Linked DNA regions of Homo sapiens. The protein of the gene in region 3 purifies or fractionates together with the protein of the main gene of each other region. This does not show direct contact. Each region holds a gene or a part of one and is shown on either strand. Other genes may lie near its edges.

The links.
Region 1: the proteins of ZBTB38 (region 3) and YTHDC2 purify together in Homo sapiens (affinity purification with mass spectrometry; 3 studies listed by BioGRID and IntAct, with this or other methods). This does not show direct contact.
Region 2: the proteins of ZBTB38 (region 3) and MRPS35 purify together in Homo sapiens (affinity purification with mass spectrometry; 2 studies listed by BioGRID and IntAct, with this or other methods). This does not show direct contact.
Region 4: the proteins of ZBTB38 (region 3) and ZNF689 purify together in Homo sapiens (affinity purification with mass spectrometry; 3 studies listed by BioGRID and IntAct, with this or other methods). This does not show direct contact.
Region 5: the proteins of ZBTB38 (region 3) and NEMF purify together in Homo sapiens (affinity purification with mass spectrometry; 2 studies listed by BioGRID and IntAct, with this or other methods). This does not show direct contact.
Region 6: the proteins of ZBTB38 (region 3) and ZCCHC17 purify together in Homo sapiens (affinity purification with mass spectrometry; 2 studies listed by BioGRID and IntAct, with this or other methods). This does not show direct contact.
Region 7: the proteins of ZBTB38 (region 3) and EIF5B purify together in Homo sapiens (affinity purification with mass spectrometry; 2 studies listed by BioGRID and IntAct, with this or other methods). This does not show direct contact.

Annotation. Positions count from the first base shown.
Region 1 is NC_000005.10:113,555,192-113,558,696, reverse strand, and holds part of YTHDC2 (3'-5' RNA helicase YTHDC2), read right to left. Parts: intron 2,646-3,505; coding exon 2,563-2,645; intron 1-2,562. UniProt on the Homo sapiens protein: 3'-5' RNA helicase that plays a key role in the male and female germline by promoting transition from mitotic to meiotic divisions in stem cells.
Region 2 is NC_000012.12:27,724,331-27,727,835, reverse strand, and holds part of MRPS35 (small ribosomal subunit protein mS35 isoform 1 precursor), read right to left. Parts: intron 2,260-3,505; coding exon of another isoform or gene 2,251-2,259; exon of another isoform or gene 1-2,250.
Region 3 is NC_000003.12:141,375,003-141,378,507, forward strand, and holds part of ZBTB38 (zinc finger and BTB domain-containing protein 38), read left to right. Parts: intron 1-3,505. UniProt on the Homo sapiens protein: Transcriptional regulator with bimodal DNA-binding specificity. Binds with a higher affinity to methylated CpG dinucleotides in the consensus sequence 5'-CGCG-3' but can also bind to E-box elements (5'-CACGTG-3').
Region 4 is NC_000016.10:30,604,722-30,607,392, forward strand, and holds part of ZNF689 (zinc finger protein 689), read right to left. Parts: intron 727-2,671; coding exon 1-726. UniProt on the Homo sapiens protein: May be involved in transcriptional regulation.
Region 5 is NC_000014.9:49,797,284-49,800,788, forward strand, and holds part of NEMF (ribosome quality control complex subunit NEMF), read right to left. Parts: intron 3,414-3,505; coding exon 3,137-3,413; intron 2,396-3,136; coding exon 2,353-2,395; intron 2,242-2,352; coding exon 2,192-2,241; intron 1-2,191. UniProt on the Homo sapiens protein: Key component of the ribosome quality control complex (RQC), a ribosome-associated complex that mediates the extraction of incompletely synthesized nascent chains from stalled ribosomes as well as their ubiquitin-mediated proteasomal degradation.
Region 6 is NC_000001.11:31,359,532-31,363,036, reverse strand, and holds part of ZCCHC17 (zinc finger CCHC domain-containing protein 17), read right to left. Parts: intron 3,450-3,505; exon of another isoform or gene 2,240-3,449; coding exon of another isoform or gene 2,207-2,239; intron 1-2,206.
Region 7 is NC_000002.12:99,399,104-99,401,827, reverse strand, and holds the end of EIF5B (eukaryotic translation initiation factor 5B), read right to left. Parts: intron 2,522-2,724; coding exon 2,414-2,521; 3' UTR 588-2,413; downstream 1-587. Other genes in the region: DNA repair protein REV1, read left to right, coding at 476-587. UniProt on the Homo sapiens protein: Plays a role in translation initiation.

The DNA.
Region 1 (3,505 bases), on a different chromosome or scaffold from region 3:
CCGCCTCAGCCTCCCAATCCACTTCGATTTTCTACAGGCAACTCAAACTCAAAATAACCAAAAATTAATTATTCTCTCCAGTGAAAACACTCTTCCAATTTTCCCTATCTGACTATGGCACTACTGTCCGATTTTTTAAGACAGAAACCTGGATGACATCCTTAACTCCACTCTCTTCCTTACCCCTCACCCCCTACATACACAATCAATCACCAACATTACTTTCTTTAGTATCTCTTGAATTAATTATCTATTTATTTTTATTTCCACCACCACTAAAACAATCCAGACTACTTTCATCTCTCCCTTATTATAGGAAAGTATTAATGAAGAAGCCTCCTACTGGGTCCTCCTACCATCATTTTTGTTCCTGCCAATCCATTCTTCAGAGAGCTGAAAGAATACTATACTCATGTCATCCCACTGTTTATTTTTTTAAAAAAGAGAGAAAACTCAAAATGGTCCTTAAAAACTTGTCCCCAACTTTCAGCTCATTTTTCACTATTCTCTAAACTAAATTCTATCCAAACATCCTCCCTATTCACTCTTGCCTTTAGGCAAATAAGTATACCTGGTTATACTTTCCCTCTGCCTTTTAGAAATGCCTCCCCCTTTATTCACAATTGTCTCAGATTCATTCTTAACAACTCTGGAAACATCCAGTTGTAGCACAAATAACACTGTATTAAAATTGCTTAATTTACTGGACTCCCACATGGACTGCAACATTTGCCCTACCTCCAGCTTTACCTATCAGGCTATGGTTTATTTATCACTATCCGTAACATGTGCACAGGGAAGACTTTTGATAAACATTTGTTGAAAAATGGCAATGAAAATTTTTGCAGTTCTGGCCTTCATCTCCAATAATATACTATTTGTTATTTTATTTTTTTTGAGACAGTGTCTGGCTCTGTCGCTCCGGCTGGAGTAGAGTGGTATGATCACAGCTCACGGCAGCTGCAGCCTCGACCTCCCAGGATCAGATGATCCTCCCACCTTAGCCTCCCAAGTAGCTAGGCCCACAGGCCTGTGCCACCACACCTAGCTGATTTTTTAATTTTTTGTAGAGACAAGGTCTCACTATGATGCCCAGGCTAGTCTCAGACTCTTAGACTCAAGTGATCCTTCCACCTCAGGCTCCCAAAGTGCTGGGATTACAAGCATAAGCCACTACACCCAGCCTTACCCACAATAATATACTATTAATAGCAGGGACATCCAGCTTAATGTATCAAGCCACTATTGGTCATAAGAAAACAACTGACATAACAACAACAAAGCCCTCATGGGCATTCTATGAAGTTACAAAGTAAAGAAATAATGCACATGAGTCTTCAGTATATGAGGCATTCTTTGAAAGTCAGCATTTCATGTTTTCCTGCTAATTATAATAAAATGCAAGATAAATATTTACTGAAAATGATACTTTTTAATGTTATCTTTTGAAAATTAAAAAGTAACCCAAACACTTAGTAAAATAACCAAATTACAAAAAAAATAAAATTGTCTCCTTACTCCAAGAACCCCACAAATCCTCCTTCTCAGAGTTAACAATCATTCATTGTTTTTTAATGTTTCTCCCAGACTTCTCGATGCATTTGTGTCAAAATACATACACAAACACACATATATTTTTCTTACCACAAAAGACTACTAGATGCATGTTCTGTATCCTTTCAATTAACAATGCATCCTGAAAACTCATTCCATATAAGAACACACAGATCTACATTTTTCCTTTTAACAGCTACCCAGAAAGCCACTGTGTGGCTATAATTTATTTAATCACTTCAGTATTGATGGACATCACACTGTTCCCAGACTTTACATTATTATAAACAATGCTTCAAAGAACAGTCTTAAACATACATCTTTGCACACGTGTGCAAGCATACTCAGGATAAATTATGACAAGTGGAATCTATGGTCAAAGAGTAGATTTGGATAAATAGTTTCAAATTGCACTCTGAAGAAGTCACACCAATCTATACTCCCATCAGTAAAATATGAAAGACTATTGGCCCATGTTTTTCCTCTATGTTGTACATACTGTTAAACATTTTCATCAATGCCCATCTGAGATTCAAAAAATAATACCTCATTAATTTGCATTTATTTAGATACATATTAGGTAGTATATGTGAGGTTAATGTATTAGTAGGACATGCATATTTTTTATTTTGGTAAATTGCCTATTTGTGCCCTTTATCCATTTTAACTGGATTATTGGCCTTTAGTTGATTTCAAAGAGCTTCTTTATATAATAAGGAAATTAGCTCTTTGTCCTACATTGCATATGTTTAGAATTTTTGGTTTTGTTTTTTAAGCTTCTTACATCTGAATGTACATTTAACTAGGCAAAAGTTTTTAATTTTAACATAACCTACATTCAACTTTTAAGGAAGTATCAAAATGGCTTGCTTTGCAAAAATAATATAAAAATTTTAACATGAAAACTACTATTTTATTGAACATGGAATATATGATAAATGTGTAATGCATATAAAAACGTTTCCATTTTACAGGCAATTGAATGAATATACATTAAATATACATTACCTGCCTTTCCGCTGTATGGCACTAGCTTTGGAAATCCATACCATTTTTAACATTGTAACAAAATTCAGAGCATCAAAGGATTTCTGTAATATTTAAACCATCTTTATGTTAGAATATAAAAGGTATTTAAAAGGTAATAGCAAGAATGTTATCAACATATTTTAACATGCCAAAAGTTTAATTCAAAGTCCTCTCTTGATTAAATAATTAAAACAGCAGTACTGATTTTTAATAAACCCTGATTTTCTGGTTACAAACATACTAAGAAAAAAGGATTTAAAAACTAAACTCAGAAGAGCGTAAAACTTCTCCATTCTGTGCTCTGCTGAGCTATTTGTTGCTCTCTGCCACAGCTGGATAATGGCAGCCAGTTCTCATAAGACATCAAGATTGGAGAGAACGGATCTATTCCCTTGAGGTCACTTTCCTATCAGATTTGCATCACTGTGCAGAATAAGAAGATCAAGGAAAGACATTTTCTGAAATACTTTTCAGGGACCTAACCTTGTGGAGTAAGAATAACAATCAATAATCTTATCCCAAAGAGAAATATTTTTAACCACTTCCACTTTACTTCCTGCTGAGCTACTAACAAAGTTAGCCTTTCCCGAACGTTACAATGAAGAAAGTAAAAAAGAACCATTGTTATCCACATACTTATTCAAATAACCTACAGTGAAAATTTATTGTAGAGAAATATTTTAAAGAAATACAAGCCTAACTAGAACATGTATTTCAGTCACTCGGTACTTATACTTTCCCTTTCATAAAATAACTGCATAGAGCAAATAAAAATGTTTGCATAATAGTTTATAAAATTTTTAGAAAACAGCTTATTTGGTTTTTAATATGACATTACATTTGTCAATTTTGTATGTTAAATAACTTTTGACACTACCCATGTTTTAAATTTCAGTTACTTAATAAATAAGTAACACCTAAA
Region 2 (3,505 bases), on a different chromosome or scaffold from region 3:
ATGAATTTACAAGCGTTCCTGGAACCAATCCCAAACAGATACTGAGGAACAACTGTATGATAATTAACAAACAATAGGTCATAGATCTAAATGTAAGAGCTAAAACTATAAAACTTTTAGGAGGAAACACAAGAGTGAATCTTTTATGACCTTGAATAAGACAATGATTTCTTACATATGACACCAAAAGCACAAGAAACAAAAGGAAAAATACTGTCATACGCCACTTAACAATATTTTTTGACAAAGACATGGCTAGGTGATTTTGTCATGTACAAACATCATTATGTATTTACACAATCCTAGGTGGTACAGCCTACTACACACCTAGACTACATGGTATAGTCAATTGCTCCTTGGCTACAAACCTGTGTAGCATGTTACTGTTAAATACTGTAACAACTGTAACAAAATTGTACTTGTGTATTTAAACATATCTAAACATAGAAAAAGTGCAGTGAAAATACAGTATTATAATCTCTTGGGACCACTGTTGTGTATGTGTTTATCACTGACCACAACATCATTATGCAGCACATGACTTACATAAATTGGACTTCATCAAAATTAAAACTTCTGTGCTTAAAAGGCTCACGCCTCTAATCCCAGCATTTTGGGAGGCTGAGGCAGGCAGATCACAAGGTCAGGAGATCGAGACCATCCTGGCTAACACGGTGAAAACCCCATCTCTACTAAAAATACAAAAAATTAGCCAGGCGTGGTGGCGGGTGCCTGTAGTTCTAGCTACTCGGGAGGCTGAGGCAGGAGAATGCTGTGAACCCAGGAGGCGGAGCTTGCAGTGAGCTGAGATCGAGCCACTGCACTCCAGCCTGGGTGACAGAGTGAGACTCCGTCTCAAAAAAAAAAAAAAAAAAGGACATCATCAAGAAAGTAAGAGGACAACCCAAAGAATGGAAGAAAATGTTTACAAATCATATATCTGAGAAGGGACTGGGACTGGTGTCCAGAATATATAAAATACACTTATAACTCAACAATCGAAAGATAAACAACCCAATTAAAAAACAGGCAAAGGATATGAACAGACATTTCTCCAAACATATACAAATAGTCAACAAGCACATGAAAAGATGGTTATTAGGGAGACACAAATCAAAACTACAATGATACTTTCATACCTATCAGAATGGCTAAAACTAAAGGACAGGTAATAACCATTAGTGAGGATGTGGAGAAATAGAAAGCCTCAAACTTGCTGGTGAAATTGTAAAATAGTGAAGCCACTTTGAAATTGTTTTTCAAAAACAGTTTGGCAGTTCCTCAAAATGTTAAATATGGAGGTGCCATGCAACTCAGTCATTCCACTGCTAGGTATATACCCAAGAGAATGGAAAACACATATCTACACAAAAACCTGTATGTGAATGTTCAACAGCATTATTCATCCAAAAAGTAGACACAACCCAAATGTCCACCAATTAATGAATGGATAAATAAAATGTGGTATATTCATAAAATAAAATATTTGGCAATAAAAAGAAATGATAAAATAATACATGCTACAACAGATGAAACCTATTGAAAACATTACACTAAGTGAAAGAAAACATATTGCATGGTTCCATTTCTGTAACACATCAAGAATAGGTAAATCCAGAGACAAAAAGTAGATTAGTGGCTAAAAGGGGCTTGAGGATGGTTAAGGGGGGAATTCTATAGCAAGTGAACTATGTCTCAATAAAGCCATTATTAAAAAGAAACAACGGCCCTGTAGTGGTGGCTCACATCTGTAATCCCAGCACTTTGGGAGCCCAAGGCAGGCAGATCGCCTGAGTCCAGGAATTTGAGACCAGCCTGGGCATCATGGCAAAACCCTGTCTCTACAAAAATTCAAAAAAATTGGCCAGGCATGGTGGCACACTCCTGCAGTTCCAGCTACTGCTCAGGAGGCTGAGATGGGAGAATCACTTGAGCCCGGATGGAAGAGACTGCAGTGAGCCAAGATCGCGCCACTGCACTTCAGCCTGGGTGACAGGGTAAGACCCTGTCTCAAAAAAAAAAAAAAAAAAAAAAAAAGGTATACAAGGAATCAATACACCACCAAAATGAGCAAATGACAAAAAATACATGTTTTGCAAAGGAATAAATCCTCAACCTCACTAGTATTCAAAGACATACAAATTTTAAATATAAGACAAATTTTTTACCTATCAAGTTGACAGGTAATATGTAGGTTGGTGAGAGCACAGGAAAGCAGGCCTTCTCACATTCTGCTGGGATTATATTTTTTTACATTTCCTGCAGGAATTTTATAATATATATCAACAAACTTCAAGAGCTATATCCTTTGACCTCATAGTTCTCCTTTCAGGAAGTTATCTTAGGAACATCATTAGAAATACATACAAATATTAATACCTAAGAATATTCATTAAAATATTTTTCTAATAAAGAAAACCATTAAAAAGCCTAAAGGTTCCATAATACAGATAAATTATGGTAGCCCTGTATTATGAAATTATTTATATATCACACTTCAGTCTCAGAAAAAAGGCTAAGTTTGAAGTGATCAACATTACACCCCCAGATTCAAACACTGTCTTGGTACATAACAATCTCTCATTTATACGTTATTCTATGCAGCCATTAAAATTAAATTAGATTGGGTGCAGTGGCTCACACCTGTAATTCCAGTGCTTTGGGAGGCGGAAGTGGGAAGATCACTTGAGCCAGGAGTTCAAGAAAAGCTGGGCAACAAAGTGAGATCCTGTATCTACAAAAAATTTAAGAAAATGGGCTGGGCAGTGTCTCACACCTGTAGTCCCAGCCACTTTGGAGGCTGAGGCAGGACAATCAATTGAACCCAGAAATTGGAGGCCACATTGAGCTATGTTAGTGCCACTACTCTCTGCCTGTCAGATCTCATCTCAAAAAAATTCAAATTAAATTAAAGAATGTTTAATATTATTGGGAAATGTTTAATTCTTGTTAAGAGACTGCTGAACACATACAGTATCATCCCATTAATATACACAAAGGCAGGCTGTGACTATATACTAAAATGAGCTACTATAGTTAACAGTGGTTACAAATAGTAGATTTACGGGCAATTTTGTAATTTTTTTTTTTTCCGAGATGGAATCTCGCTCTGTCACCCAGGTTGGAGTGCAGTGGAGCGATCTCAGCTCACTGCAACCTCTGCCTCCCGGGTTCAAGCAATTCTCCTGCCTCAGCCTCCGGAGTAGATGGGATTACAGGTGCCCACCACCACGCCCAGCTAATTTTTGTATTTTTAGTAGAGACGGGGTTTCACCATGTTGGCCAGGCTGGTCTTGAACTCCTGACCTCAGGTGATCCGCCTGACTCGGCCTCCCAAAGTGCTGGGATTACAGGCAGGAGCCACCATGCCTGGTGTATAATTTGAAACTTGTATTTTCCAAAATTTCTGTGAAAAATATTACAGTTTTATAATCACACATATCAATTTCTTTCTTTATTTTTAGAGATAGGTTCTTGCTATGTTGCCCAGGCTGGCGTCAAATTC
Region 3 (3,505 bases):
CTCCCAATTCTTCTGCATTAATGCCTGAGAACTATTGACATGCTGCATTCAGTTCAACAAATATTCAGTTGGCAAACATTTATTAGACAAAAAAAATTAGGAAACTCTGAGCTAGTATGTCTATGCCAGAATTTAACTTAAAGTCTTTTTTTGGCTTCTGATTTTTAGATTTTCCTTTAACTGTAATATGATGTAGTAAAAAGATTATTAGCTAGGGAATCAAGAAACCATATTGTACACATGAAATCACTGAGGCCCATAATGGTTCATTTACTTCCTGGTGGTCACTCAGAGATTTAATGGCAAAGGTTGAACTAGACAAAGGGCCCAGAGTCACCCAACCTTTAGGTAAGAGACAAAAGGCGCCAATGAGAAGATTCACTCCTGAGGCAACGCCCTGCCTCAGCCAAGGAGCTCTTACCTGCCCTCAGATAGGCATGCCCGTACTTCAAGACACTCTTGGGCAGCCTAGACCTAGCAAGGGGCCCACGTGCCCATCTTGGTCACCTAATGGGGCCAGACTGTGGTGTGCCCTGATCCCTGAGGTGGTAGCACTGAAGAAGCTGGACCCAGGAGGACAGAGGGCAGCCGTGCAGGCAGCATCCATGTGATCAGCATCACAAGAGCAGAGTAGGAGGTGGGATCTGGGGTCAGAAACCAAGACAGCGGAGCAGGGTCAGGGCAAGTGCCAGACTAAAATATGTGGGCAAATTTGAGGTCAAGGCAGGGATGAGTTGAAAGGAAGACAAGCAAGAGCTAGAGGGGAACTGCTGAGGATTTGGCCTCAAGGATGGAGTCCCACTGTGTGACCTCACAGTCAGGGGAGGTACCTGCCCCAAGCCGTGCCTGCCTTTTTAAATCTGAAAGGTGCTGTGTGCTGGGCTGCCTTCTGACAGCAGGAGAGTAGGAGCACAGCCTGAGAGGCGGCAGGCCAGAGCAGGAGGAACCTGAAAATGGAAATTTAGGAAACAATGGAAAAAACAATTATAGCAACAAAAAACCATTTTCTTTAAACTCTCACCATCCTCTAAGAGGAAGTCTGACTATTCATCCTGCCTGCATAACCCTGCTGAAACCCATCAACCCACACCCACTGATCACCTGACAGTGTCTGACTGCCCGGCTTCCTCTCATCCCACCACCTCAATTTCCAGAGCCCACCAAGGCATCACTTGACTTTCAAGTTCTGCCTGGACAGACTGCTCAGCTCCCTACCCGCCCCAGTTCACGTTCAGGTTCTTGAAATCAACTTTAGTTTCCTCCATGCCTACATCTATGCTGATCCCCTGCAAAGGCACCTGGTGACACACAAGAGCCAGAACCCAAAGGAGCTCCTCCACAGGATCCTCCCAGGGCTTAGCCACCAGGGAATTTTGTTGATGATCCCCAAGCTTCACTGCCCCATGCAAGTCTCCATTATCTCAAGGTTATCCCTGTTCAGGATCACTACTCTCCTGATTCTTGGCCTCCTAGTCCAAACTCATGGCTCCAGGGTCATGATGAGTAAGAGTTCTGGAAAAGTCTACAACCTCCCTTGAACCAGAGGTACCTTGAATCAGATGGAGGGTGACTTTCCAAGAATGCCTGGGCCGGTTCAAGTCTTCACTATAATGTTTGCCTTATGTAAAACCCATCACCTTGTTGTCCTGCACAACTTTCTTGAGTGAAGCACCTCTGATACTCAGATGACATTCTAATTGCTCACGAGACCTGGACCCCTGGGCCAGGAAAGCCCATGTGGTGGTGACAGCAGTGCTTCCAAATCTCACCCACAGGAGACAAAAATAGGAGTTCCATGGCATCCAGACAAGGTGTCCACATGCTGCTGGAGAGTCTTGGGTGGTCACAGAGTACAAAGTTCAAGGGCAAAGATTGTTCAGTGGGTCCCAAGATTTGACAAGTGCTACTGGTGGTCCCACCCTTGCCTCTCTACATTGATTCCATGTCCCACTTCCTCTCACACTATGCTGATAACGATCTAACCTGAGAAATTAAAAGTATTCACACAGCCTCTGGCCAAAGCTACAGGAAGACCCTGGCCCAGGCAAACTCTGTTCCTGCCCCACAGCTGTCATTTCACCTGCCCTACCCCATGGGAGCATGTACCACTGGTATCAAGTCTTCCTGCTGGGCCAAGAGGCACTGCCTCAAAGAGGCCCAGCATCCCCAGATAGCAATGTCCCACCACTGCAGTCAGGAGCAACTGGGCAAACCCAAAGACTCAGCCCCCCCATCCAGAAAGACCATCCCATTTTCCATCGCCTAAGTGCCAGACAGCCCAAACTGCTGTGTAGACAGCTACCAGGAAAACTGGAGCAATGAGAGACATCTGAGGTCACCCCAGCTAAGCTCAGAAGGCCACAGAGCTTAACTGCCTTCTTGACTGTGGCCCATCAAAAGGAGCCCGACACATCTAGTAGATGGCTTAAATAAAAAATACTGAGGTTACCAAATGCTGGCAAACATGTGGGGACACTGGATCTCTCCTACATTGCCTGTAGGAATGTAAAATGGTACAGCCACTCTAGGAAACTGTTTGGCAGTTTCTTATAAAAGTTAAACATATACTTACCACGTGATCCAGCAATCCTACTCATGGGTATTTACACAAGAGAAATGAAAACTTATGTTCACGCAATAAACTTTACATGAACATTTATAGCAGCTTTATTTGTAATACCTAAAAACTGGAAAATAGCCAAATGTTTTTCAGCAAGTTAGTGGGTAACACACTGGTACATCCACACCTTGAAATACTATTCAGCAATAAAAAGGCATGTGCTCTTTACATACAATTCAAATGGATCACAAGGGCATTATGCTGAAAGCCAATCTCAAAGAGTTATATGCTACATGATTCCATTTAGAGAACGTTCTTGGACTGACAAAATCACAGTGATAGGCCATGCACGGTGGCTCATGCTTGTAATCCCAGCACTTTGGGAGGCTGAGGCAGGAGTGCCCAGGAGTTCGAGACCAGCCAGGGTAACACAGGGAGACCCGCATCTCTACAAAAATTTACAAAACTAGCGGGATATGTGGGCGTGCACCTGTGGTCTCAGCTACTTGAGAGGCTGAGATGGGAAGACTGCTTGAGCCCAGGAGTTTGAGGCTGCAGTAAGCCATGATTTTGCCATTGCACCCCCAGCCTGGGTGACAGAGCGAGACCCTGTCTCAACAAGCAAAAAAAAAAAAAAATTACAGTGATAGAGAACAGATCAGTGGTTGTCAGGATGGGTGTGATTATCAGAGGAGGAGCACAGGGAACTGTGGTGGTGACTATTCTCTATTCTGATGGTGATGGTCATCACTCCAGCCTGCACATGTGATACGTTGCATAGAACTGTAGACATACAGGTACACACACACACACACAGAGTGCATGTAAAAACTGGTAAAATCACATAAGACTGTATCTGCGTTTATTTGAACTATACCAGCATCTGTTTCTTGGTTTAGCCCAAGTACTACAGCGATGTAAGACAACACTGGGGGAAGGTGGAGA
Region 4 (2,671 bases), on a different chromosome or scaffold from region 3:
GCTCGCAGGCATAGGGACGCTCCCCAGAGTGCACACGCCGGTGACTGACCAGGCGAGAGGAGGAGGAGAAGCGCCGCTCGCAGTCCGGGCACGGGTAGGGCTTCTCGCCCGTGTGGATGCGCTGGTGGATGACGAGGGCCGTGCGCTGGCGGAAGCGGCGGTTGCACTCGAGGCAAGTGTAGGGCTTCTCTCCCGTGTGTGTACGCTGGTGGATGGCTAGCAGGGAGGGGTAGGCGAAGCGACGTCCACAGCTAGGGCACTGGTGGGGTTTTTCACCTGTGTGTGTGGTCCGGTGATTGGCCAAGGACCGGCTCCTCCGGAAGCAGCGACCACAGTCAGGGCAGTGATAGGGCTTCTCCCCTGTATGGATGACCTGGTGCTGGGAGAGGTTCTTGCGCTGGGAGAAACGTTTGCCACACTGGTCACAAACATAGGGGCACTCGCCGGAGTGTGCCCGCCGGTGACTGACCAGCAGGGATGGATAGGAAAAGCGGCGCCCACAGTCTGGGCAAGGGTAAGGCTTTTTTAGATTCTGGGCGCACTTGTGGCTCTCCAGGGCCTGATGATCAGGGAAGGTACAGCCGCAGTCAGGGCAGATGGGGCCCCCGGACGTCTGCCTAGGAATCAGTCGGGGTTTGCTGGGCCTCCGGCCTCGCTTCCCCTTTCGGGGTGCCTCCTTAGGCGGGAATACTTCCTTCTCCCCATTCTTCTTTCTGGTTCTGCTTTCTATAGAAATACAGAAGCATTAATTTAACAAATACTGGGCTCCTGCTCTTGTCAATTACATTATAGGTTACAAGACCAATAGACTCACCCCCTGGTCTCAATTCCTAGTGCCACAGACAGCTAAGTGTGACATACTGTCATGCAAATACGGTGTGCATTACAGGAGCTTCTAACCCAGCTTGGAGAAGTCTAGGAAGATTTCTCGGAGATTAAACTAACTTTAAAAATTGAGGCCGGGCACAGTGGATCACGCTTGTAATCGTAAGCACTGGGAGGCCGAGGCGGGCAGATCACAAGGTCAGGAGTTTGAGAGCAGCCTGACCAACATGGTGAAACCCTGTTTCTACTAAAAATACAAAAATTAGCCGGGCGTGGTGGCACGCACCTGTAATCCCAGCTACCCAGAAGGCTGAGGCAGGAGAATCGCCCGGGAGGCAGAGGTTGCAGTGAGCCGAGATTGTGCCACTGCACTCCAACCTGGGCGAGAGAGCGAGATTCCATCTCAAAAAAAAAAAAAAAAGGAATATTTTTGAAGAGGTAAGCTTACATCATTCAAAAGTCAAAATATCAGCCAGGCATGGTTGCTCATGCCTGTAATCCCAGCACTTTGGGAGCCCAAGGCAAGAGATCGCTTGAACCCAGGAGTTCAAGATCAGCCTGGGCAGCATAGTGAGACCCCATCTCTACAAAAAATACAAATATTAGCCTGGCCTGGTGGCACGCGTGCCTGCCTGTAGTCCTAGCTACTTGGAAGGCTGAGGTAGAGGATTACTTGAGCCCAGGAGTTCAAGGCTACTGTGAACCATGATGGCACCACTGTACTCCAGCCTGGGCAACACAGCAAGACCCTATCTCAAAAAACAAACAAGTCAAAATATTAATAAAGGAATACAGAGAAGTCTTGCTGCCACCTTTTTCCAATCTACCTTGTAGAAACCATATTAGTTTTTTCCCATTTTTTTGATGCAATACAAATGTCACCTTCCCTATCTTTCTTTCATAAGAGATTGCATACACATGCTTTACAGCGTATGTTCTCTTCCCCACCTTTCTTTTTTTTTTTCTTTTTTGAGACAGAGTCACGCTCTGTCACCCAGGCTGGAGTGCAATGGTGTGATCTCAGTTCACTGAAATCTCCGCCTCCCGGGTTCAAGTGATTCTCCCTGCCTCAGCCTCCTAAGTAGCTGGGATTACAGGCATGCACCACTATGCCCAGCTAATTTTTTGTATTTTTAGTAGAGTCAGGGTTTCACCATGTTGGCCAGGTTGGTCTCGAACTCCTGACCTCAGGTTATCTGCTCACCTCTATCTCCCAAAGTGACTACAGGCGTGAGCCACCATGCCCAGCTCACCTTTCTTATACAAAAGACAACATATACACACCTTATACACACTTTACATTTTTTCACTTAATATATTCTAAAGATCATTTTATGTCAGCAAATCTTTTTTCTATTTTACAGCTACACAGAATTCCATTGTGGATGGTTTATTTGACTTAGCTGATTCTTTAAAAAATGTGGCTGGGCGTGGTGGCTCATGTCTGTAATCCTAGCACTTTAGGAGGCTGAGGCAGGCGGATCACCTGAGGTCAGGAGTTCAAGACCAGCCTGGCCAACATGGTGAAACCCCGTCTCTACAAAAATATAAAAATTAGCTGGGCACAATAGCAGGTGCCTATAATCCCAGCTACCCAGAGGCTGAGGTGGGAGAATCACTTGATCCTGGGAGGCGGAGGTTGCAGTGAGCCAAGATCACGCCATTGCACTCCAGCCTGCATGACAGAGTGAGACTCCATCTCAAAAAAAAAAAAAAAAAAAAAAAAAAGAATTAAAATTATGCAGTGTTAGAAACGTAAGTCCCAGCCAAGCGCAGTGGCTCATTCCTATAATCCCAGCACTTTGGGAGGCCAAGGTGGGCGGACTGTGAGGTCAGGAGTTCGAGA
Region 5 (3,505 bases), on a different chromosome or scaffold from region 3:
TCCCTTCCGCCCTTCCCTTGCTTCTACTTGCTTCCTGAGACCTGCTATTAAAAAAAAAAAAAAAATCGGCCAGGCGCGGTGGCTCACACCTGTAATCCAGCACTTTGGGAGGCCAAGGCGGGTGGATCGCGAGGTCAGAAGATCGAGACAATCCTGCCTAACACGGTGAAACCCCATCTCTACTAAAAATACAAAAACAAAATTAGCCGGGCGTGGTGGTGGGTGCCTGTAGTCCCAGCTACTCGGGAGGCTAAGGCAGGAGAATAGCATGAATCTGGGAGGCAGAGCTTGCAGTGAGCCGAGATCGCAGCCACTGCGCTCCAGCCTGGGCCACAGAGCGAGACTCCGTCTCAAAAAAAACAAAAAACAAAAAATCAACTATTCTGCCTTACATAAAACTTTCCTAATTTCAGGTATTCATATTTATTCCTGACAATATCACCCTAGAACTAGTCTATGTAATACACTGAAATCATTATTGTACATGTTTATGTAATAAAAGGTCTTATTAGAGCTAGTCCTCAAATAACATCATTTCATTCAACATCATTGTGTTATAACTTTGATGAGAACAAAATTGATTCCTGGCCACGGCTACCATCTGTGCAGAGTTTACATGTTCTCCCCATGTCTTTGTGGGTTTTCACCAGGTACTCAGGTTTTCTCTCACATCCCAAAATGCGCATGTCAGGTTAACTGGTGTGTGTAAATTATCCCAGCATGAATGAGTGCAGGTATGTGTGCCCTGCAACAGAATGACATCCTGTTCTAGGTTGGTTCTGGCCTTTTGCCCTGACCTGCCAGGATAGGCTCTAGCCACCAATGACCCTTAACTGGAATAAGCGGTTGAAAAACGAATGAATGAATGAATGAATGACTTAATAAAAATGATTGTCAAAAATTCATAAACTATAGTCATACAAATGTATAACAATCAACAATGTAGTATGAAAGTGTTTAATGAATGTGCCACATTTTTGTTTTTGAACCTCATGGTAGTAGGAGGTACTCTATAGTTTTCACTTTGCAAATAATCCTTGATTTAACCCACTACCACTACAACTGCCATCACTCATTGATTTACCAAAAATTGGGTAAATAATTATCTTGCTCGCTTTCATTCATCTTTCTTAAATATACATACAGTTTACATTTATTTTAACGTTTAATATTAGAAGAGTTTTCAGTCTTTATTTAGAAGCTTGGTGATGGTTTTGTGACCAAAAATATGCCAGAGGAACTTAACTCTTGTTTATATCAATTAGCCCATGGCAAAACTGGTTTCATTACACACTGTTTCCCTTAAGTCCAAGTTTCCAAGAACCTATTGAAAATGTTAAGTGGGCCAGGCGCGGTGGCTTATGCCTATAATCCCAGCACTTTCGGAGGCCAAAGCGGGTGATCACGAGGTCAGAAGATCGAGACTATCCTGGCTAACACGGTGAAACCCCGTCTCTACTAAAAATACAAAAAATTAGCCGGGCATGGTGGTGGGCGCCTCTAGTCCCAGCTACTCGGGAGGCTGAGGCAGGAGAACGGCGTGAACCCGGGAGGTGGGGCTTGCAGTGAGCCGAGATCATGCCACTGCACTCCAGCCTGGGCGACAGAGCGAGACTCCATCTCAAAAAAAAAGAAAATGTTAAGTGAAGGCCGGGCACAATGGCTCATGTCTGTAATCCCAGCACTTTGGGCAGCCAAGGTGGGAGGATCACTTGAGCCCAGGGGTTTAAGACCAGCCTGGGCAACATGATGAAACCCTGTCTCTACAAAAACTATAAAAATTTTTGTAGTGGCACACGCCTGTAGTCCCAGCTACTCAGGAGGCTGAAGCAGGAGACTGCCTGAGCCTGGGAGTTTGAGGCTGCAGTGAGCCATGACTGCGCCATAGCACTCTAGCCTGGGCAACAAAGCGAGACCCTGTTTCAAAAAAAAAAAAAAAAAAAAAAAAAAGGAAAATGTTAAGTGAGGACTTACTCTACTAGGTCTATTTCATTGATTATAGTTATAGATTAGGGCCCTTAAACAGAAAAATGTATTAGAGCTTAATATTAAAAACTAAACATTTGTGCTAAATCTTGGTAAATTTAATGAAGGAAGTCTTTAAACAGCTAAGTAATCTGTGGTAGCTGAGCTATCAATTAAAAAAAAAAGAAAAACATGCTTTTTAGTTAATTAACACAGATGTGTTTACCTTCTTTCCTTGGCTGACAAATGTCTCCGGCTCTGTGATTTACTGTCACTCTATTAAAACAAAAAAACAGGCAAATGCAAATATCACTATTAACTTTTTTGAAAAGTAGAAAATTATTCACTGAGAATCGGATGTTCTTCATAAAACTGAAAATAGCTTACAGAATTAGAAGATTCCTCTTTTGAAGCCAATTTCTGGATGGACCTATGAAAATAAACACAAGGGAGTCTCTACTAGCCTGTAAAAGACATGCATTTACAAAGTCCCAAAACATTCCCATATCATACTCTTAAGTACTGGCAATCCAACAAATTTTCAAATTTGGTGAAGTGAGAAAAACATACAACCAAATTGCTCCTCTCTCCACACTTCCATATACATTTTTAAATAGGTGACGTGTATTGAAAACTTACTGTGTGTCAGGCACTGCCAGATGGTATACACGCATGAAACCTTCACCAAATCCCTATGAAAGGGATACCATTCTGTTTTCACCAAGAAGGAAACTGAAGCTTAAGCACAAAGTAATTTTCCCAAGGACGCACCCTAAGACCCAATACTGGTCTGTCTGACTCCTAGACTGTTCTGAATTACCCCTAAGTTAATTATGCATTTATAACTATGGACTATTCACCTGATGATCTGCAAAACATTATATAGACTAAAACACATTTCTTTGATGGAATTGCCTTTGTTATGTTTTTAGCATTTATAACCATTTACTTGTTTCTATTTGGATCTAGTTTGGCCACTCTATATGCACTGTATTTTTCTACCCTGGTCCTGGGAATTTCTTTGCAGAGAGACCCAATCAAATGTTGAAAAAGTATTAAGACAATGGAGTGTAAAAGTACTGATGTCAATCTTGGTATTATCTTTGTAAGGATTACCTCATCATCATTCTCAGCTTACACAATAATATGTAAAATTTTATTTTTTAATTACCTTTGGGGTTGAAGGTGAGACAAGTCAATGGTAGTATCAGGATAATTTAATGTCTCTTCCCCTTCATCCTTCATTTCACCAACAGAATCCTGATCTTTTCTAACCTCTTCATATTCTCCTTCGTCTTCAGAGCTTTCTTCCTGAATGAGCTCCTCATTTAGTTCATCTCTGCCACTCTGAAGAGTGATATCCTCTTGGTCAACCTGAGTCATGAGTTCTACTTCCACAGGAGTTTCATGTTCTTCTTTATCCTCATCACTGCTCGTGTCACCTCCATCTGTAGAATTATCATAAGGAAAGTCAGTGTGGGACTACCAACCAAGCCAGGTGATTTCCTAAAAATGTCATAAAAATATTCCACTGTTTCTC
Region 6 (3,505 bases), on a different chromosome or scaffold from region 3:
GCACATGATATAAACTGTGTATGTTACACATACTTGTGTATATTTAGTATACACAGAGAACACTGAAAAGGATACATCAAACTGGTAATAAGTGTTACACATTGGGAATGAACTGAATGGGGGAAAGGATATGGGTCTTTCACTTTTTCCTTCAAATACTTCTGTCTAATTTGATTTTTTTTAAACAAGTATCTTATTACTTTCATTTTTTAAAGTGCAGGACATTAAAGCTGAAAGGCGCCCCTAAAGACTAGCCAGTCTATCTAGAAACAGTGACTCACATATCCAAGGTCAAAGAATAGGAGTAAAAGATTTAGAACTCCTGACTGCTATTCTGGTTTCTATTAGATCCTGGTGCCAGGGGAAATAACTGCCATCAAATAATAAGCCTGTACTTGCTACCCTTGAATATTCATCATCTCTAACTTTACAGCCACCTCACAAGATTATACTCATAAAGAAAAGAGCTGAGAAAGAACATTCCCAAAACTATACCCACCACATCATGCTACCAAAGTAACAGTACAAACCCATACAAAAGACGAGAGGCAGATTCCCAGGTGTCTAATGGGGCAGTATGAGCAGATTTTAAGCACGGCATAAATCTCTTCTTTGAATTTCAAATACCTATATTGCCTCTGTAAGGTTTCTAAGAAGAGGGAGAAAGTATGGGAGGAGAAAGAGAGCAGAAAAGGATGCCAGCTTCCAACCAGCAGCCTCAGAGCTATAAATCTAGCTGAATGATACACCAGGTCTTAGAAGCTGGCTGTGAAAAATGGTGGAAAGAACACTGAAGCAGGTGTTAGATAGACCTGGACCTGAGTTCTGGCTCTGCCATTTACTATTCTGCATCCGTGGGCAAGTCATCTGAACTCACTGAGGCCTGTTCCCTTCAAATGTAAACTGGAGATAAGAATAACATCTACTGGCTGGGCGCGGTGGCTCATGCCTGTAATCCCAGCACTCTGGGAGGCCAAGGCAGGTGGATCATGAGGTCAGGAGATCGAGACCATCCTGGCCAACATGGTGAAACCCTGTCTCTACTAAAAATACAAAAATTGGCCGGGTGTGGTTACGCGGGCCTGTAGTCCCAGCTACTCAGGAAGCTGAGGTGGGAGGATCGCTTGAGCCCAAGAGCTGGAAGTTGCAGTGAGCCATAATCCTGCCACTGCACTCCAGGCTGGGCAACTGAGCAAGACCCTGTCTCAAAATAAATAAATAAATAAATAAATAAATAAATAAATAAATAATCTCCCCCTCTCCCCAAAAAAAACACCTATGGTGACAAGTTAATGAGATAGTATCTAAGGCTTGGACAAGTTGAAAGCCACTTGTCCCAGATCGCATAGGCGCAGTTGGGATCTTCATGTAGATCATATGAATGGAAATCTCCTGAGTTTTCCTATGTAGCACATGGCCCCTCTTTCTGTATGGTAACAGGAGGCCTCATGGTATGGTCATTAGAACAACAAATTTTGGAATAAGATAGAATTAAGTTCAAATTCTAGCTCTGCAACTTAACTCACTATGTGACTTAGAACAAGGGATTTAACTTTTTTGAACCTCAGTTTTCTTTTCAGTAAACTGGAAATAATAAGTACCTATTTCAAAGGATGCTATGAGGTTTAAACAAGATAAGCACTAACTATAGTGCCTGACACATTATAGGCACTTAGTGGGAGCTATATGTATTTTTCTCTCATTAACTCCCAGGATGTTCTGACAGCCTGGCCAAGCATCTACAGGAGACAAGTCAAAGTTTTAAGAGAAGATGAAATAACAATTCTTCCTTGGCATCTCCAATGGAGTAGAGAGAAGGCAACAAAGCTTCTCAGACCCACATTACCGAGCTATAACAACCATGGCTGGGAGGAGCTGAGAGTTGGCAAATCAATAGTTTAGCTATGTTGCTGAACCTTCCTGGATGGCAAGACCATGGAAGTCCATCACAAGATATTATGGGGTCAGGAGCCTCACTGGGTTCTGCCCCTTATATAGGTGAATATCCTGGGAAAGTAAAAATGAAAATACAGAGTCTGGCACCAGTTCCCTGCAAGCCTGGTCCAGCCTGGATAAAGAAGTGAGGAGAGTAATAATACTGCCTTACACCTAAACAGTGCTTTAGTTTATCAAGCTTTTTGCATCCTTATCTTACAATAATAGTCTGTAGAGTCAAACTTCATGAGTTATTATTCCCATTTTACAGATGGAAAAACTGCAACTCAGAAATGTAAAGTGAGTCGACCAAGGCTAAAGCGGCAAAACCACTATACTTTATAACACAGAGTTTGGCACTATTTCCACTTTGTTCTCTCTCAAAGATGAAGGCTCAGGAGGAGGGAAGATAAAAACAAATCACTGGAGAGTCCTGGCATGCTGGAACATGGACTCTAGCTAGCAAGAAGGGCTCAAGGAGGTGGCCTTCTCCTAGACCTCAACTTTGATGCAAAAGCTGTTTTGCAGCCTGAACAAAGACAATCCAATCCTCCAGCAAATGGCGTCATTTTCCCTACGTGTCTAGCCTTGAGCTACAGAACAAAAGAACAATCACATCCGAAGTTGTAGTTCGCCTGGTTGCGGTGGCTCACGCCTGTGATCCCAGCACTTTGGGAGGCCAAGGTGGGTGGATCACCTGAGGTCAGGAGGTCGAGACTAGCCTGACCAACATGAAGAAACCCCATCTCTACTAAAAATACAAAATTAGCTGGGCGTGGTGGCACATGCCTGTAATCCCAGCTACTCGGGAGGCTGAGGCAGGAGAATCGCTTGAGCGTGGGAGGCGGAGGTTTTGGTGAGCCAAGATCGCGCCACTGCACTCCAGCCTGGGCAACAAGAGCGAAACTCTGTCTCAAAACAAAACAAAACAAAACACGCACACACAAAAACAAAATTAGCCGGGCGTGGTGGCACATGCCTGTAATCCCAGCTACTCGGGAGGCTGAGGCAGGAGAATTGCTTGAACCCGGAGGCAGAGGTTGGGGTCAGCCAAGATTGTGCCATTGCACTCCAGCCTGGGCAACAAGATGGAAACTCCGTCTCAAAAAAAAAAAAAAGGTTGTAGTTCAAAAGCAAAGTTGGGAGTTGGGGTGGGGGAAGACTGAGAGCCAGAAGATGAACCAAGCTTCTGCTCTCTCAACTTCATTCAAGTGAGAAGGGAAACAGAAGATAATGGGTTAAAAAAAAATGACATGGATTCAAGTATCAGATGGAAATAGAAAATTAAACATAAAACAGTTTTTAAATGGCATAGGAGTGTGAGCCCATGGCGCAGGTCAAGGGGGCACTGGAAGGAAGCCACTGGTCAAACATCTCAAAGACTGCTCTCTAGGAAAAGCACATATCCCTTGTTAGAGCAGCTAGTCTACCCATTTTCACTATAGTTCTGAAACAGGATAGCAGCAGCCCAGTGTGACAGAAAAACAAAAATAAAAGCAAAAACTGAAAAAAGAGAATATAGCAGTGAACATTTATTGAGTACTTAATTTTCTATTTTATTTATTTACTT
Region 7 (2,724 bases), on a different chromosome or scaffold from region 3:
TGCATGGCTCCAGCCTGATCGACAGCTTGTCTCAAAACAAAATAAAAAAAAATTTGAGTGTTCTAGGATTTTATTTTTTTTGAGATGGAGTCTCACTCTGTCGCCCAGGCTGGAGTGCAGTGGCAGGATCTTGGCTTACTGCAGCCTCTGCCTCCTGGGTTCCAGTGACTCTCCTGCCTCAGCCTCCCGGGTAGCTGGGATTATAGGCATGTGCCACCATGCCCACCTAATTTTTCTATTTTTTGTAGAGACGGGGTTTTACCATGTTGGCCAGGCTGGTCTCAAACTCCTGACCTCAGGTGATCCGCCCTCCTCGGCCTCCCAAAGTGCTGGGATTACAGGCATGAGCCACACCGCACCTGGCCAGGACTTTTTTTTTTTTTTGCCAAAGTCAATTTTTATATATAAAAAGGAATAATTAGTCTTAAGGACCTTTCCTAATTCCTAATGACATTTCTTCTCTCCCCACCTTTAGGCTGATGCAGCAATCGGTGGAATCGGTTTGGAATATGGCATTTGACTTTATTCTTGACAATGTCCAGGTGGTTTTACAACAAACTTATGGAAGCACATTAAAAGTTACATAAATATTACCAGAGAGCCTGATGCTCTCTGATAGCTGTGCCATAAGTGCTTGTGAGGTATTTGCAAAGTGCATGATAGTAATGCTCGGAGTTTTTATAATTTTAAATTTCTTTTAAAGCAAGTGTTTTGTACATTTCTTTTCAAAAAGTGCCAAATTTGTCAGTATTGCATGTAAATAATTGTGTTAATTATTTTACTGTAGCATAGATTCTATTTACAAAATGTTTGTTTATAAAGTTTTATGGATTTTTACAGTGAAGTGTTTACAGTTGTTTAATAAAGAACTGTATGTATATTTTGTACAGGCTCCTTTTTGTGAATCCTTAAAAACTCAACTCTAGGAAGCAACTACTGTTTATTATACTAAAAGGCTGAAAAACCTCCAGGCCAGACTGCTAAGCTCTGAAATTCCTGAGAGGTCTCAGACCGGGATTCTACTTGTTCCAAGAAAGGGTAAAGCTTCTAAACCATCTTATTCTTGTCTCCAAGCATGAACACAGGAGCATGTTAAGAAAATCTTTACTACTTCTTCCATGCGGAGAAATCTACATATTTTGAATTAGAAACACCCTCACACCCACTTGAAGATTTTTTTCCTGGGAACATTATGTCCCGTAGATCAGAGGTGGTGTTGTCTTTTTGCTTCTACTGGCCATTGAGAAACTTTGATGATAAAAAAGAACGGTATAGATTTTTCAAACGTATATAAAATATTTTTATGTTATATGTTATGCCATAACTTTAAAATAAAAATAGTTTAAAATTCTATGCTAGTGGATATTTGGAACTTTTTCCTCAAACAAACACCCCACACTGACTTCAGCAAAACCCTAAAACTAGCTACAGATTACTACTACGAATGAATCATTAAGTTTTGTGTCTGCAACAATTTAGAAGCACTAAGCCCAAATATCAGGAAATGTGTGTATGATGGAATTTTCTAGGACAAAACAGATCAAGATTAAAACAGATCAAGATTAATGTATAAAAATCTCTACTAAAACAGATCAAGATTAAAACAGATCAAGATTAATGTATAAAAATCTCTACTGTTACCAGGTGCTGGCATACAAGGTAGTGTGATGATAGTTTAGTTTGTAAGATAATTCTTGTCCTAGGAGGACAACTTGTGGGAGAGAAGCTACACTAACATGGAAGCCTAACAGAGCTTGCTTACTGGTGGATGTCTGTTTTCTTTATTGGTAGTTTGGTTTAGAATTGTGATGATTACAATGGACTCGTGACTACACAAGCAGTAAAAAGCAGCCAGCTGTGCTTTTACACCATGGTTTCACACAAAGCAGCTAAAGAAATATCAGAATGCCTAATTTTCTATTTTATAAAAGCCCTAAAGGCATATGGCAGAAGAATGCTGGAAAAATCACTGTGGGAAGAATATGCATAAATAAAGAAGTATTTCTTACGTCAAAAAAGTCCCAAGAATCACAAAATCTGCAGAAGCTTGGTTAATCAAATACTGCAGTACTGATTTAATCAGTATAAAATCGAAAGAGCTTTAGATCTGTAATAAAAATCCAAATTTGGGGAAGGGCAAACTTTAAAACAGCAGCCAAGTAGAGAAGGGTTGGGGAAGGGAGAGGTGAGTGAACAGGCACATTGGAACTGTGGGGACATGTAACTGACCACTGTCAAACCAGTGTAAGTTTCTTGGTTTCTCATGGAAAACATTTTATACACCTATTTTTCTTCCTTCCATACTTAAGTCCATCAGTGTCCAAATACGTCTGTTCCATTTTTTGTCTGATTTTTGTTGGGATATTACAACACAGTATTGCATTTACTCCAGTTCCTGCTCCATGTGAAAAAATTAGATGATTTCAAATACTTTCTTCAGCTCCACAATAAGCTGCCAGTCACTCTTCTGCATTTCATCTCTGAACCAGTCTTTGAGTGCATCAATGGACTGCCGGCTGATCTGCAATGCCCGAGGCACAAACAGGGTAAACAGAACATAACAAACGTGCCAAAGAAAGCTGTGGCCCCAGATGCCCGCTCTCACTGTACTAAAAAGCTTAAGCAGAAATAAAAAACAGGGCTTGCCTGCCTAAGGGAGTAGAATTCCAAAATCACATCTGGTTTGCATGTCAGGCACGAGGGGACCTAAAAGTCCTAGCTTTC